3 separate regions of the Homo sapiens genome follow, and regions 1 and 3 are each linked to region 2. Evidence: fine-mapped expression QTL. A gene starts in region 2. Each other region holds a variant in brackets. All regions are shown on one strand. Distances are from middle to middle.

The links. PIP is the estimated chance that this variant, and not a neighbour inherited with it, causes the effect.
Region 1: its variant is fine-mapped to the expression of LAT2 in whole blood (TOPMed, PIP above 0.99).
Region 3: its variant is fine-mapped to the expression of LAT2 in whole blood (INTERVAL, PIP above 0.99).

Annotation. Positions count from the first base shown.
Region 1 is chr7:74,178,573-74,184,300 of GRCh38, forward strand. All of the region lies in intron 1 of EIF4H (eukaryotic translation initiation factor 4H), which reads left to right. Among named protein-coding and RNA genes, the nearest start is that of EIF4H, 7.1 kb to the left of the region's middle. RefSeq lists enhancers at 876-1,376, 1,377-1,877. The variant G/A (reference allele first, on the strand shown) is at 2,963.
Region 2 is chr7:74,206,962-74,212,689 of GRCh38, forward strand. LAT2 (linker for activation of T cells family member 2) reads left to right here and starts at 3,045. Exons shown (of 14, transcript NM_032464.3): 1 at 3,045-3,127. RefSeq lists enhancers at 2,529-2,638, 3,859-3,978 and silencers at 2,919-2,968, 4,079-4,168.
Region 3 is chr7:74,232,701-74,238,428 of GRCh38, forward strand. RFC2 (replication factor C subunit 2) reads right to left here. Exons shown (of 11, transcript NM_181471.3): 9 at 4,662-4,742; 10 at 2,832-2,945. Among named protein-coding and RNA genes, the nearest start is that of RFC2, 19 kb to the right of the region's middle. The variant C/T (reference allele first, on the strand shown) is at 3,262.

The DNA.
Region 1 (5,728 bases), 28 kb before region 2:
AGTGTTCTGGAAAGACTTCACAATTTTAAGGAGTCTCCCTGGAAGCTTAGAACGTACAAAGCAGACTCTGAATGTCTTTCCAGGATCACACTCTGGCTTCCAGCTTCCCCTGGAAGGTTCAGGAGAGTATTTGTCGCCTGGTTGCTTTTACATCATGCTGATTAGACCTGCACACCCGGGCATGAAATGAGTGTGATTGCATCATTTTCATAGAACCTAATGGCAGCTGTATGTACGTCTAAGACTTCTTTTGTGTAAGTCGAATGTTCTTCGAAGTTTCCCCACGTCATGATTTATGTGATTTTCCGTCTTGATCAGGACCTTCTGAAGGAGCTCAAGTATGTGGCTGCTCCACGGTTGATGAGTCTCTGGTTAAGCATGGCCTTCCAGTTCAGGGCTAGGGGGGCCGTCACCTCCCTTTGTTCTGCACATTCTTCTCCTGTCTTTCATGTATACTCACATTTTTGGAGCCTTCTGTGTACTCACATTTTTGGAGCCTTCTAAATGTCTGGCTTAATAGAACACAGCTGGATTCTCATACCTGCATCTGTCTCCACTCTTGGAATGTGTTGCTTTGGTTGACTTTTATGGAGCAGCTCAATCCTTGCACAGATAAATAGTTGGAAATGGGAGGAGTAATCAAATAATTCTGGATATTCATATTTGATTCTATACCAAAACTCAATAAGCAGTAGTTTCTATGAAGGTTAGTTGCAATGTGAAACCTAAAACCTTATCAATAAACTCTTCATACTTTTACATTAGAGTTCATCATTTGGCTGGGCGCGGTGGCTCACTCCTGTAACCCCAGGACTTTGGGAGGCCAAGGCGGGCGGATTACCTGAGGTCAGTAGTCTGAGACCAGCCTGGCTAACATGGCAAAGCCCCATCTCTACTAAAAACACAAAAACTAGCTGGGCATGGTGGTGGGCCCCTGTAGTCCCAGCTACTTGGGAGGCTGAAGCCATAGAATCACTTGAACCTGGGAGGTGGAGTTTGCAGTGAGCCCAGATTGCGCCACTGCACTCCCGCCTGGGCGACAGGGTGAGACTCTGTATCAAAAAAAAAAAAAAAAAGTCACTTTATCTTGTACTCCGACTGGATCCTTTACCAGTGCATACATTTGTAAGGTGTTGGTGATTTGGAAAGGACCTGTTCACTGAGCCAGGCAGAGCCATGCAGATGTTCCAGATGTTGGTACATTTTGTTATACAGTATCAAAGTCACATTCACCATAGCTGTTAGAAAAGTCTCTGAGTATTGAAAGACTGTCAGGCTTATGTTGATGGATACAGGTTTTCCGAAACTCTTTTTTGCTTGAAAGCTTAAATTTTACCATTGGCAACAAATACTGTTATTTTGGCCAGGTGCTGTGGCTCATGTCTGTAATCCCAACACTTTGGGAGGCCATGGCAGGAGGATCACTCTAGCCCAGTCTGGACAATATGTCCAGACCTGGTCTTTTCAAAAATAAAATTAGCTGGTGTGGTGGTATATGCCTATAGTCCCACCTACTTGGGAGGCTGAGGCTAGAGGATCACTTGAGTCCTGGAGATTGAGGCTGCAGTGAGCAGTGATTGCACCACAGCACTCAAATCTGGGCAACAGAGCAAGACCCTGTCTCAAAACAAAAAACCCAAATACTGTTCTTTTACTTCAAGGAACAGACTTAACTTCATTTTTAAAAAACTTAGTACCCATGTCTGAATTAACCATAGTTTGTTCTATAGAAAGAACAGCTAGTTCAGCTTGTAGCTCAAGTGCTTTTCCTGCAGCAGCCATCATGCTTGTGTATGCAGCAGAAGTGCTTTGCGTGTTTCATAACATAGGGTACTAAAAAGTGGGTCACGATTCATTTTTACTGCTTTACCAAGGATATTCCTAATTGAAGCTGTGATTTTTCTTCCTATTTTAAATACTTCAAGTGCATGGTGGGAAAGCATGAGTAATGTAGTTTGATGCCCCTGCCTTCGTTTGTATTAACACAAAGACCTGTTGTGAGATCAGTATAGGTCTTTGCTTTATAAATGTGGAATATTGTGAACCATTCTGGGAACCATATTTTAAGGCATCAGCACACTGGAGCCTATGAAGAAGAAGGTGATAGTGGGGATGGCCAGGCTCTGAAACTTCATCTTAGGAGGAAGGGCTGAGCAGCTTCAGTGAGGACCTTCGAAAGAAGCCTCAGCAGCAGTGATACAGCAGCTCTTAAGTCTCTGGGACTGCTGAGTGGAAGAAAGGTGTGGCCCTCCAGGCCAGAATAGGACCAAAGGATTACATCTTGGCCTTCTTCAGAGACTGCACAAATGTAAAGAACTGCTGCTTGAGCTAAATAATTGTTTTTTTAATAGAGACAGGGTCTCCCTTTGTTGCCTAAGCTGGTCTTGAACTAGCCTCAAGGGATACTCCTGCCTTGACCTCCTAAAGTGCTGGGATTGCAAGCATGAGCCACCACGCCCAGCCTCAACCATTTTTAAGTGTACAATTTAGTGGCATGGAGTACCTTCATAGTGTTGTGTAACCATTGCCACTATCTAGTTCCAGAACCTTTTCATAATCCAAACAGAAACTCTATACCCACTAAACAACTCCATTCCTTTCCCAGTTTTAACCTCATAAACATTTTGGCTATTTCTGTTACATCTATCTTCCCTACTTTTGGGTGGAGGTGTGGGCTAGGATAATTTAAGGCTAATCCTAGTCACCTATCCTTCTAAAATAGTTCTTATTTTTTTAAATTTTAATCCTCATCTTTGTGTTGGTAAATATTACATACTTTAGAGCAATTTTTGTTTCAATTTTTATGGCTACCGTAGTAGATGTATCTTATATATTCTTTCTTTGTTTTTTTTGTTTTTTGTTTTGTTTTGTTTTCTGAGGCAGAGTTTTACTCTTGTTGCCCAGGCTGGAATGCAGTGGCACTATCTCGGCTCACCACAACCTCCGCCTCCTGGGTTCAAGC[G/A]ATTCTCCTGCCTCAGCCTCCCGAGTAGCTGGGATTACAGGCATGTGCCACCACACCTGGCAAATTTTGTATTTTTAGCAGAGATAGAGCAGAAACAGAGGGTTTCTACATGTTGGTCAGGCTGGTCTCGAACTCCCGACCTCAGGTAATCTGCCTGCCTCGGCCTCCCAAAGTGCTGGGATTACAGGTGTGAGCCACCGAGCCCGGCCTTTTTTTTTGAGATGGAGTCTCACTCTGCCTCCCAGGCTAGAGCTCAGTGGCGCGATCTCAGCTCACTGCAGCCTCCGCCACCACCCCTCAGCCTCCCGAGTAGCTGGGATTACAGGCACCTGCCACTGTGCCCAGCTGATTTTTGTACTGTTAGTAGAGATGGGGTTTCACCATGTTGGCCGGGTTGGTCTTGAACTCCTGACCTTGTGATTCATCCGCTTCAGCCTCCCAAAGTGCTGGGATTATAGGTGTGAGCCACCACACCCGGCCTCTTACATACTTTTCATACTTGAGTATGTTTCTAACAGATAAGGGCTTCTTTTTTTTCTTTAACCAACAGTTTTTCCAGTACCCAGTGTTCAGTTTTTCCCAGTTTTTGCAAAGATGACTTTGTATAGTTGGATTGTTTGAATATGCAAAACATTACAGAAAAATGTAGAAAATTTAGAACACGAACCAAAGCATAATATAGTGACCTGTATACCCATTACCTACTCTTTAAGTGACCACTCTTCTCTATACTACTATGGTTTATAATAGGTAGTATAAATGGTATTTATCAAAGGCTTGACCTTTGAAAGCTTAACCATTTTTGATGATTGTCAAAAACCCAAATGTTACCTGTTTGTAGATATGGGGTTTTGCCGTGTTCCCCACGCTGGTCTCAAACTCCTGAGCTCAAGTGATCTCCCCACCTTGGCCTCCCGAAGTGCCGGGATTGCAGGTGTGAGCCATGGCGTCCGGCCAGTCATTTTCTTTGGTTTACACTACTTTACCCTTCTGGGCCCTACTTTCCCCAAATGAGAGCTAGAAACTCCTCTGTTGGGAGGTTTAAATGAGATGTGTCTCATAATTTGGAGGCATAGTCTTGCCCTGTTGCCCAGGCTGGAGTGCAGTTGCACAATCACAGTCCCAAAGTGCTGGGACTACAGGCCGGAGCCACATGCCCATGCCCAGCCTTGAGCACTCAACTTTCTGTTGCATCTACTTACTGGATACATCCCTACCCTCATAACATCTACTCTGTACATTGGCTTCTTTTTATAGTTACCCTCTCTCAGTCTCCTTTGACACCTACAGATCTTTTCTGGCTCACCCTAAGGGTTCAGTATTGGCCCCATCTGCCATCTGGAAGTGGAGTCCCACTTCTGTTGCTCTCTGCTGTGCTGCATATCCTGGCTCCCAACTGCTCCACCCTGGTGAAACTGTTCTCATTGCTATCTTCCAGATTTTCTGCAGTCCTTTGCTTGTGACGTGATTTCTCCTTTCCAAATTATCAGCTCCTTGAGGGCAGAAACCGAGTCTTAGGTTTGTGCCTTCTCTACATTCTCTCCACCCTTCATAGACATGCAGATACGTGGTTGATTTGAGTAAGGAAAAGTGATTTGCCTGTCAAGGATTTTAGTCACACTTGGAGCCGAAAGTAGGGTTTCCTAAATTACTGAGGCTGTAATTGACTACTTTAATCTTTCATAATCAATAGACTGTCCCTAATGGGCAGTAGAAAGGACACTGCTCAGTAGTGGCAGGGAGTTTGCAGCACAGACCTTGACTTCAGGTGTCCTGAATTGGCACGCTCTGCTGATCTGTTCCTGTTCTACACGCACTCCTGCCAGCCCAGTGTAGCCTCAGGCCTGTTGGGTCTACCCAGGAGCATGGCAGAATTATATAGCACTTGGTACTTAGGAAATGTTTTTATGGTCAGTTTTAAACTTATAAAATCAAGATTGAAATATAACAGACAAGAAAACATAGGTACAGAGGTAATTTGGCAGAGGTCCTACATCAAGCTAGCTAAGGTGTCAAGTGAACCTGTTCTCCCATGTGTTGTTATTGATCTGTGTAGGAATGTACTGAATTTCACGAAACACAGCTTATTTATTTAGGTAGTAGTCCCCCAAACTTGAATCTAGTGAAAGGTGGCAGACATTTTAGCTCAGAGTTTTCTGACATTTGATTTTGTAAATGAATCGGTGGGTAACAGATCTGTGTCATCCTATGTGATGTGATGTGATGTCATCCTATGTGATGTGTACTCTGGGGTACTCACATCCTATGTGATGTGTCTCAAGTGACTGTCACACAGTGGACACTTTACCAGTGCTAGCTTGAATGAGGTCTACCTCCATGGCCCAGCCCTGCTGCCCCCTAGTGATTTCATTGAATGGGATGAAAAGGTAAAAAGTGCTTAAGACCTGTAGAAGGGACTACATCAGGTAGGGTATGGGAATATTTAGGACTACTTTGGTAATTATTGAAAAGTCTAGAGTATTAAGCCACTGGTGGTTTTGTGAGGCACGAGTGAGTTGAACAGTTTGGTGGGCTTTGGTGTATCTTTGCTCCAGAATTATATCACCAGTTAGCTGTTAGGTGCTGCCATTTGGTAACGTGCCAACTTTTCAAAAATGGTTTGCCCCAAACTAGATTTTTCTATCTTCTCCAAAGCCAGAGCCACCTTCCTGTCCTAGTGCATTTTTAGCAGTGCCCCGTCATCTTACTGGCATTCACCTGGGCTTCCTGTGCTCAATCAGGGGTCAAGTCTGGCCTGATCTCAGT
Region 2 (5,728 bases):
TCCCTGGTGTCTCCAGCAGGTGGGATAAACACCGGGTTCAATGGGACCAGGCGCGGTGGCCTCACGCCTGTAATCCCTGCACTTTGGGAGGCTGAGGATGGAGGATCGCTTAAGGCCAGGAGTTCAAGACCAGCCTGGGCAACATAGTGAGACCTTGTCTCTACAAAAAAAAAAAAATACAAAAATTAGCTGGGCGTGGTGGCATGCACCTGGGGTTCCAGCTAACTCTGGAGGCTGAGGTGGGAGGATCGTTTGAGCCTGGGAGGCAGAGGTTGCAGTGAGCTGAGATTGCACCACTGCACTCCAGCCTGAGTGACCGGGTGAGACCCCATCTCAAAAAAAATTTTAAAAAAGGGGAAAGAACAGCAGGTAACCTCTATCCAGGTGCACAGTCTGGGGCTGAAGGGAAACTGTTGCAGGCTTGTTCCCATTGTGTGAGGAGGAGCCAGTCAGGGGGTCCCAGTGAGGAAGCCAGGCTTTGGGGTCTGGGTTCAAATTCAGCTTCACCTCTGGACCGAGTGAGACCCTGTCTCAAAAAAAAAAAAAAAAAGCAGGCGAGGAATAGAGACAGAGGGTCAGACAGCAAGAGTCCCAGAGGATGAGACAGATGGACACAGAGACAAAGGATGCGGGATGTAGGTGGGCAGGGCAGGGACAGAGAGACCCCTGCAGAGGCCACGAGGGCAGGGCAGATGGAACAAGTGACCAAAGACAGGTGGAGGAGTGGACGGCACGAGTGTCAGAGGCTGCAGACAGCGAGGGCGCTAAAGGGTGGGAGAAGGAAGGAGAGCCCTGCTCCACCCCAGCCTTGGGGGTCTCATCACCCCACTGCACAGATGAGGCTCCTGGCATCGGGGTGCAGAGAACGGCTCATAGCACAGGCAGAGGGACCACAGCCCACTCCTGCCCAGCGGTGCTCCTGTGCCCAGCCCTGGGGTGGACACCGTGGCTGCCATCCACACAGACATGAGGACCGAGTGAGATAGTTCCCTGTGGAGGCCAGGATGCTCTGGCACCTGAGGTCAATAAAGCCACATCCCACAAGTGGGTGGACTGCCTTGTGCTATTGACCATTAAACAGCTGCCCAAGGCCATTGAGCTATTAATTAAATAATAATTATTATTATTTTAAATTTTTTTGTTGTGTTTTTTGGGTTTTTTTGTTTTTGTTTTGTTTTTTTGAGATGGAGTCTCGCTCTGTTGTCCAGGCTGTAGTGCAGTGGCACGATCTTGGCTCACTGCAAACTCCGCCTTCTGGGCTCAAGTGATTCTCCTGCCTCAGCCTCCCAAGTAGCTGGGATTACAGGCACCCACCATCACACCCGGCAAATTTTTGTATTTTTAGTAGAGATGGGGTTTCACCATTTTGGCCAGGCTGGTCTCAAACTCCCGACCTAAATAAGGTGATCCACCTGCCTTGGCCTCCCAAAGTGCTGGGATTACAGATGTGAGCCACCACGCCCGGCCTATTTATTGTTTTTACAGACAGACAGGGTCTTGCTGTCCCCCAGGCTGGAGTGCAGTGGCAGAGTCACGGCTCACTGCAGCCTCCAACTCTTGGGCTCAAGAAATCCTCCCGTTTTGGCCTCCCAAAACACTGGGACTACAGGTGTGTGCCACCACACCCAGCTAATTAAAAAAATTTTTTTAGAGATGGGGTCTCGTTCTGTTGTCCAGGCTGGTCTCAAATTCCTGTTCTCAAGCGATCCTCCTGCCTCAGCCTCCAAAAATGTTAGGATTGCAGGTGCAAGCCACTGCACCTGGCCTCTATCTCCCTGTTTCTTGCTCTCTCCCCATCTGTGTGTGTCTCTGACAGTCTGTGGCTCTCTGTATCTTTCTGTGTGTCTCTCTGTGTGTGTCTTGGTCCATCTCATGCCCAGCTAATTTTTAAATTTTTTGTAGAGATGGGGTTTCACCATGTTGGCCAGGCTGGTCTTGAACTCCAGACCTCAGGTGATTCTCCTGCTTCAGCCTCCCAAAGTGTTGGGATTACAGGCATGAGCCACCGTGCCTGGCCCATGGGTATGAATTTCTGCCTGTGTGTGTCTTCTTCTTTTTTTTTTTTTTTTTGAGATGAAGTCTTGCTCTGTCACCCAGGCTGGAGTGCAGTGGCGCTATCTTGGCTCACTGCAACCTCCACCTCCTGGGTTCAAGCAATTCTCCTGCCTCAGCCTCCCGAGTAGCTGGGATTACAGGCACCCGCCACCACACCCAGATAATTTTTGTATTTTTGGTAGATATGGGGTTTCACCATGTTGGTCAGGCTGGTTTTGAACCCCTGACTTCATGACCTGCCTGCCTTGGCCTCCCAAAGTGCTGGGATTACAGGCATGAGCCACCGCGCCCGGCCCATGGGTGTGAATTTCTGCCTGTGTGTGTCTTTTTAGCGTATGTGTGTCTCCATATCTGCCATCTGCAGGAGCACCTCAGTTTCATTATCTTGCTCCCTGTCTATTGGAGTGTATCTCTCTTCCTCTCTGTGTGACTTTTTGTGTTTATGTGTGTGTTTAGTGTGTGTCCATATTTTCCTGTTCTCTTGTGTCTCTCTGCTGTGTCTCTCTCTTTTTCTTTCTGTTTTTTGAGACGGAGTCTCCCTCTGTCACCCAGGCTGGAGTGCAGTGGTGCGATCTCGGCTCACTGCAACCTCTGCTTCTGAGGTTCAAACGATTCTCCTGCCTCAGCCTCCCGAGTAGCTGGAATTACAGACACATGCCACCATGCCCAGCTAATTTTGTATTTTTAATAGAGACGGGGTTTCACCATGTTGGCCAGGCTGGTCTTAAACTCTTGACCTTACGTGATCCACCCGCCTCGGCCTCCCAAAGTTTTTGGATTACAGGTGTGAGCCACCTCGCCCGGTCCTATCTCTCTTTCTTCTCTTTCTCCCTCTCACTTTGTTTCTCTTCTCTCTCTCTCTCCCGCCTCCTTCCCCCGTCTCCCCTCCCTTCCCCCCACCGCCCTCTTCATAGCTGAGCCTGTCCGGCAGTGCGGCGGATGTACGGATGATTCAGTGGCTGGCAGGAAGCCCGCCCTGCCCGCCCGCCAGTGTCAGTGGTGTTGGCATCAGCTTGGGCAGGTGTGCGGGCTCAGGATGGGGCGGCCGTGGTGAGGAACCCTGGACTCTCAGGTAAGCCTTTCCCAGGGGTGCCTCAGTCCTCAGGCTGTCCCCCATCCCCCAGGAGCTCCTGGCCCCACTGGGTGGGGTGGGAAGAGGCCTGGATGCCTGGCGCCCCCTCCCGCAGCCCCACTCTCACCCTGGCACCAGGCTCTGTGGCACTTCAGGGGTCAGTTTGTTTCTGGGCTTCTGGCCACTCTCTTGCCCTCGCCTTCCCCTGTCCAGCCTGTGTAGCCTTGGGACATCCCAGGGTGGTCCCATCATTGCCAGAGACTGGTGAAGTAAGTGGCCGAGAGCCAAAACAGTGGCTGCCCTGGCCTGGGAGCCTCGGTTTCCTCATCCGTGAAATGGGACTGTAACCCCCTACACAGGTCAGGGGAAAACGGTGGGATTACAGGCCAGGGCCCAGGTCTTGCCCCAGGTCAGGTGAAGAACCCCCACTGCCTCCCTGCCCAGCCCCCTACCTGGCCCTCAACTCTGTCCCTGGGACCAGGGCTGCTCAGGCCCCTCCTGCACCCGCCCGCCTCCCTCTCTCCCTCCCAGCTAGGCTCATTTGAAGCCCAGAGTTATTTGGAAAAAGCAACAGGACCAGCCGGGCACGGTGGCTCAACCTGTAATCCCAGCATTTGGGGAGGCCAAGGCGGGAGGATCATTTGAAGTCAGGAGCTGGAGACCAGCCTGAGCAACATAGTGAGACTCCCATCTCTTTAAAAAATAAAAATAAAAAAATATAATTAAAAACTAAATGAAAAAACCAACAGACCCCAGAGCAGAGTCCAGTGGATAAAGCCATCCAGGGCTTCAAGCCAGGCTGCCCCCTCCCCAACCCCAGTGTCCCCAACCACAGCTCAGCTCGGAGAAGGCTGGGAGAACCGGCAGGGTGGTCTCGAGCGTCCTTCCAGGCGGGATTCAGACACTGTAGCTCCTCCAGCCCAGCCCCGAGAACTTCCCCGAAGCCAGCTCTTGGCAATCGTTGTTCATATGAAAACTGCCCACTTCCCTTTAGTGCTATTTTGGCCTCTGCAGAACCGTGGTCTGTGGCAGCCCCCACTCCCCACCCCGCCCAGCCCTGCCGGCCCCTGGGGGCCTCAGAGGGTCCACCCTCCGCTCCCTCCACCTCAGCCCACCTGCTTTCAGAACCTGGATGGGAGAGTGAAAGTGAGAGCGAGACAGAGACACAAAGGGAGACAGAGACAGAGAGAGAGCACAGAATTTTTTTAAACGGAGTCTCACTCTGTTGTCCAGGCTGGAGTGCAGTGGCGTGATCTCGGCTCACTGCAACCTCCACCTCCCAGGTTCAAGCAGTTCTCCTGCCTTACCCTTCCAAGTAGCTGGGGACTACAGGCACGTGCTACCACACCTGGCTAATTTTTTATTTTTTATTTATTTTTTATTTTTTGGAGACAGTCTTGCTCTGTCTCCCAGGCTGGGAGTGCAGTGGTGCAATCTTGGCTCACTGCAAGCTCCACCTCCCGGGTACATGCCATTCTCCTGCCTCAGCCTCCCGAGTAGCTGAGACTAGAGGCGCCTGCCACCACGACCGGCTAATTTTTTGTATTTTTAGTAGAGACGGGGTTTCGCCATGTTAGCCAGGATGGTCTCAATCTCCTGACTTTGTGATCTGCCTGCCTCGGCCTCCCAAAGTGCTGGGATTACAGGTGTGAGCCACCGTGCCTGGCCTAATTTTTTATTTTTAGTAGAGACAGGGTTTCACCATGTTGGCCAGGCTGGTCTTGAACTCCTGACCTCAGATGATTTGCCCGCCTCAGCCTCCCAAAGTGTTGGGATTACAGGTGTGAACTACCGCACCCGGCCAACAGCGCAGGATGTATTCAGTCTGGGGGCAGACACATGACTGTTTGTTAAATTTCATTTTTTGTTTTTAGAGATGGGGTCTTGCTCTGTCACCCAGGCTGGAGTTCAGTGGTGTGATCTTGGCTCACTGCAGCTTCCAACTCCTGGGCTCAAGCAATTCTCTTGCCTCAGTGTCCCAAGTAGCTGGAACCACAGGCATGTGCCACTGCGCCTGCCTAATTTTTTCATTTTTTTGTAGAGACAGGGCCTTGTTACATCGTCCATGCTGGTCTCGAACTCCTGGCCTCAAGCGATCCTCCTGTCTCGGCCTCCCAGTGTTGAGATTACAGGCGTCAGCCACCACGCCCAGCCTGATCCCATTTTATTTATTCATTTATTTAATTTATTATTATTATTATTATTATTTTGAGATGGAGTCTCACTCTGTCTCCCATGCTGGAGTGCACTGGCGTGATCTCAGCTCACTGCAACTCACTGCCTCCTGAGTTCAAGTGATTCTCATGCCTCAGCCTCCCAAGTAGCTGGAATTACAGGCTTGCACCTCCACGCCTGGCTAATTTTTGTATTTCTAGTAGAAACAGGGTTTCACCATGTTGGCCAAGCTGGTCTCAAACTCAAGTGATCCTCCTGTCTCAGCCTCCCAAAGTATTGGGATTACAGGTGTGAGTCCCTGTACCCAGCCCGACCTCATTTTATAGATGAGAAAACTGAGGCGGGGGGCTCTCAGGCAGAGGCTAGATTTGGTCCCATGAGCCCTCCTGCAAGACAAGTTGCTCCAACCTCACAAGCCTGAGATGA
Region 3 (5,728 bases), 26 kb after region 2:
CTAAAAATACAAAAATTAGCCAGGTATGGTGGCGCACGCCTGTAATCCCAGCTACTCGGGAGGCTGAGGCAGGAGAATCACTTAAACCTGGGAGGCGAAGGTTGCAGTGAGCTGAGATAGTGCCACTGCACTCCAGCCTGGGCAACAGAGCAAGACTCCATCTCAAAAATAAATAAGTAAATAAATTCAGTAATAAAAATCAAACAACCCAATTAAAAAATGGGTAGATTTAGACCTGGAGCAGTAGCTCACACCTGTAATCCCAGCATTCTGGGAGGCTGAGGCAGGAGGATCACTTGCCCAGAGTTGGGCCTGGGCAACATAGCAACACCCAAACTCTACGAAAAAAAGAAAATAAAAATGACCCAAGTGTAGTGGCACATGCCTGCAGTCCCAGCTACTCGGGAGCCTGAGGTGGGAGGATTGCTTGAGCATGGAAGGTTGAGGCTGCAGTGAACTATGATCGCACCACTGCACTCCAGCCTGGGTGACAGAGCAAGACCCTGTCTCTCAAAAACATAAAAAAGGTAGGCCAGGCGCAGTGGCTCACACCTGTAATTCTAGCACTTTGGGAGGCCGAGGCGGGAGGATCACTTGAGCCCGGGAGTTCAAGACCAGCCTTGGCAACACGGGGACACCCCGTCTCCACCAAAAATATAAAAATTGGCCGGTCTTAACATGATCTCTAAACAAAAAATACAGTACAATTAAAATAAAAAATGTAAAAATTTTAAAAAATGGGTATATATGAACAGATGTTTCATCAAAGAAGATTCTGGATGGCAAACGAGCACATGATTAAATGTTCAGCATAGTAATTAGGGAAATGCAAATTAAAGGCACAATGAGATCTCATCACATGCCTATTAGGTTATTTTGTTGTTGTTGTTATTGGTTTTTTTTTTTTTTTTTTTTTTAAGATGGAGTCTCACTCTTGTCGCCCAAGCTGTAGTGCAGGGGTGTGATCTCAGCTCACTGCAACCTCCACCTCCTGGGTTCAAGCGATCCTCCTCCCTCAGCCGCCCGAGTAGCTGGGATTACAGGTGTAAGCCACTGCATCCGGTCATTACACACCTATTAGAATGGCTTAAAAACCAAACTGAGCACTCCATGTGGTGGCTAGGTTGAGGATCCTCCGGAATGCTGGTGGGAATGCACGTGCTGCAGCCACTTCGGAAAACCGTTTGGCAGTTCCTTATCGAGTAAAACATACACTTATCATTTTCCCAGGCAATTTCACCCCTGGGAACTTACTTGGGAAAAAGAAAAACTTAACATTTGCATTCACACTAATCCATATATGCAAATGTTTACACTGGCTTTATTCACAGTCACCACAATCTGTAAACCCAAATGTCCTCCAGCTGATGGACAGATAAGCAAACTGTGGTACACGCACAGGATGGATTACTTCTCAGTGATAACACGGACTGACTCATGGATAGAAGTACCAGCGTGGACACATCTGAAAGGCATTTCTGCTACAGTGAAAGAAAGAAGCCAAACTCACAAGGCTAAGTTCTACATGATCCCATTTATATGATATTCTGGAAAACTGTATCCCATGAAACAGAAACTACATCGGTAGTTTCCAAGTGGTAGTCGGGGAGGGGGCTGGCTTCAAAGGGACACATGAGTTGTTCTGGGATGACAGATTCTGCATCCTGATGGTGATAGTGTTTGCATGACTGAGTGCGTTTGTCCTGTACCTAACAGGCTGAATTTTACTCTATGTAAATTAAACCTCAATTAATCTAACCTTGAAAAATCAATCAATCAGTCAATACACAAGAGAGCCTTGAATGAAGAAAATCAGAACTGTGTGAAACAAACTTGGTCCTCAGGACAATCAGCCACGTTGATCTAGTTTGGACGTCTGTCCCCTTCCAATCTCATTTGGAATTTGGTCCCCAATGTGGGGATGTTTGGGTCATGAGGAAGATCCCACGTGAATGGCTTGGTGCCCACCCCAAGGTAGTGAGTGAGTTCTGGATCAATTAGGTCCCTGGAGAGCTGGCTGTTCAAATGAGCCTGGCACCTCCCTCCGTTCTCAACAGGTGGTCTCTGCATGCACAGGCTCCCACTTCCCCTTCCAACATGAGCAGAAGCAGCCTGAACCCCTCCCTAGAAGCAGATGCTGGCATCATGCTACATGTACAGCCTGCAGAACTGTGAGCCAAATCAACCTCTTTTCTTTCTACATTACCCAGTCTCTGGTATTCCTTTATAGTAACTCAAAGGAACTAAGACACAGCCTCCCTCCCACTGCAGTTGGGAAACACTGAGCACCTTCTAGATGCCAGGCCTGTGAGCAGAGAAAGCGAAGCCAGGGCCCACAGTCTTTTTTTTTTGTTTTGAGACAGTCTCGCTCTGCTGCCCAGGCTGGAGTGCAGTGGTGCGATCTTGGCTCACTGCAACCTCCACCTCCCAGGTTCAAGCGATCCTCCTCCCTCAGCCTCCCAAGTAGCTGGGATTATAGGCGCTTGCCACCACACCCAGCTAAGTTTTGTATTTTTAGTAGAGATGGGGCTTTGCCATGTTGGCCAGGCTGGTCTCAAACTCCTGACCTCAGGTGATCCGCCCACCTCGGCCTCCCAAAGTGCTGGGATTACAGGCATGAGCCACCACGCCCAGCCATGCCCAGCTAATTTTTGTATTTTTAGTAGACAGAGGCTTTCACTACGTTGGCCAGGCTGGTCTCGAACTCCTGACCTCAGGTGATCTGCCCACCTCGGCCTCCCAAAGTGCTGGGATTACAGGTGTGGCCCACAGCACCCGGCCACTATGGGCCACATTCTTGAGGACAGAGGCATTTCTACATTCTCACCGACCTTGATAAACTCCAGTTTCAGGTATTCTGCCATTTGGAAAGTTTTACACACTCGAAAGATGTTGCCAATGATATCTTCTGGTGAGTAGCCCAGATGCCACAAGTGAGCAAGAATCTAGACAAAGGAGACAGAAAAGGCTGCTTACCACTTTAAACTGTAAGAAGACATGTGATTTTGAGACTCACCACAGCTGGTGGGGCCCACCCTTCAGGTCACATGGGGGTACCTTAACTGATTTTCATGGCAGATAGAGAGATAACATTGCAAATGTATTGTTGTTTTGCTTAAATATTTTTTTTTCAGTAATATAAAGATAAGAGTCTTGCTATATTGCCCAGGCTGGTCCCAAGTTCCCGGCCTCAAGCAATCCTCCTGCCTCGACCTCCAAAAGTGCTGGGATTACAGGCATGAGCCACTGAGCCCAGCCTAT[C/T]GCAAATGTGTTAAGCTGTGTTGCAAAATGGTCTACTACCACACCCATGTAATCTCTTGATCCGGAGCTCTTAAAATGCTTTATTAATCTGATGACTAGGTATAGCAAAGTGGAAAAAGCAGACCATTCATCTGCTAGCTTCATCCAGCTGCAGTCCCAATGCAACCTCTGCAGGACGAGCCTGGAGCACACCCTGACTGGGTAATCCCAGCCTCCTGCTTCCCACCCACCCTGCCCCACCCAGGCTGCAGCGTCTGGAGGCAGGCCTTTTTGCCTTTGTTTTGGCATCTTGGGGTGAATTCAGGAGGCAGAGAAGCTCTGTGCCCACAAATCTGAAGGCTTTCTTCAGGTCTACTCAGGGACCCTGGGCCTGGGTCTCTGCTCAGTCTCCCCGCCTTGCACTCCGGTTTCACATTGGGTGGAACTATGCCCTAAACCCAGTCAACTTCCAACCTAGTTTGTTAGGGGGTAGGCAGAGGGAAACCATGACTGGATCAATGACCTTGAACCACACCAACCACACCACACCCATGTGGCTTGAGGTCGCCTGAACCCCAGCCACATCTGCTGGAATCTGCTCACAGCACTCAGTCCCATTGTGAGGCTAGAATCTTCCTGCTCCCTCCTCTCCTGGCTAGCTGGGGGCTGCTGGATCCCAGAATGCCTGTGCCTATGAGAATGGATGGGGACACTTCCCCTTAACTGGAGAGAAGATGGCTTCCCTGGAGAAGGAGCTAGGCTGGTCTTTCCTCCTGACTTTGGCTGACAAATTTCTCCTGCAGAGGATATAATTACAGGAGAAAAACACCATTTTGAATTCTAGTTCTACTGCTTTTAAACCATGACTTAGGGCTGGGCATAGTGACATGTGCCTGTAGTCCCAGCTACTTGGGAGGCTGAGGTGGGAGGATCGCCTGAGCCTGAGAGGTAGAGGCTACAGTGAGCTGTGACCGCGCCAGTGCATTCCGGCCTGGGCAACAGAGTAAGACCCTGTTTCTACATAAATAAATAAATAAATAAATAAACAAACACAGTGATTTAGGACAAGGAATTCAGCCTCTGAATCAGTTTTCTCATCAGTAAAGTGCACCCAACTCCTAGCATAATTTTTTTTTTCCAGTTCCTAGACAGATTAACACATAGCATGATATTAATAATTTTTTTTTTTTCCTGAGACAGGGTCTCACCATCACCCAGGCTGGGGTACAGTGGCGCAATCACAGCTCACTGCAGCCTTGACCTCCAAGGCTCAACAAATCCTCCTGCCTCAGTCTCCCAAGTAAGATTTCAAGAATGAATGGAGTGATGTGTATAATGTCCCTGGTACCAGAAGGGCTCCCGCTCTCCTCTGCCCAAGAAGTGAGCGGTTCCTCTGCCAGGACGGGGGGAAGGAGGCCAACCTTGTAGGCTTCGTCAATGTTGGCATTCACACAGTGCTGGATCATCTCCTTTACCAGCAGTGGGTGGGGCTCGTCACAGACCTGGCCAAAGGGAAAGGAAAGGCGGTCAGGGGCTAGAAGGGACAATGTGAGCGGGGAGGCCCCAACAGACCGACTTCCAGGCAATCTATGGGTAAAACTTCTCAACCTGTTGTTTTCATCAAATTCTCCAGCAACCAGGATGAGTTTGGGGAATGCTCCTCTCACCATCAAAGAGAAGTGCTTCCGGCACCAGGAAGATAAATTTCCCAAACATAAGACAGATGAACAAGAGAGCAACCAAGGGCCTGTGAAGGATGCTCACTTGGGGACAGCTTTAAAGTCACAAGTCATCTGTCTTAGATCACTTGGGGGGTCAGTTGCCCAGAACCACTTGGAATTCACTTTAGAACTGGGAGGTCTTTTGGGCCAATTCCCACCTCCACCCCGGAGTAGGAACTGGCCTTCCCTACAAAAGGTCCCCCAGCCTCAGCCTGACACCCTAAACAAGGGGTCAGGCTACTCCAGCAGGCAGGTGCATGGTGCTGGGGACTCCGTCCTCCCTGCAGCATTCTCCGCAGTGGCATGAGGCTCTGCCTCTGGTACAATGTCGACCCCTACATCTTCCCAATGAAAGCCTCCTGATGGCTCCAGAGGTCACCCACACCTGCCCTTGCCTTTTCCCGGTGGAAGCCATGGTTTCCTGAGCCCTCAGTGACCCTCCAAGACAAAACAGGGCCCGAACCATCACCCCTGTTTCTGAGCGGGCCTCCCCTTCCTAAGTGGCCTCGAAAATGCATTCACTGCCCAGATCTACCCAGATGCTTCAAAAATCGCTTGTCTGTTGTCCACAAACCTGGTAAGAAACAGCTATAGGCTGAAAGCTTGGACAGCCCTTCCCAGTTTCTTCCCCCAAATAAGGGGGAAGTGAATCTCTCAAATGGCATTTAGACGCGGAGTTATCAGGATGCGGAAGCAGTTTTCAAAAGAATTCCCAAGAGAAAAATGTTTTGCTGACATGGGAGAGTAAGTGAGAAACCTTTTCCTCA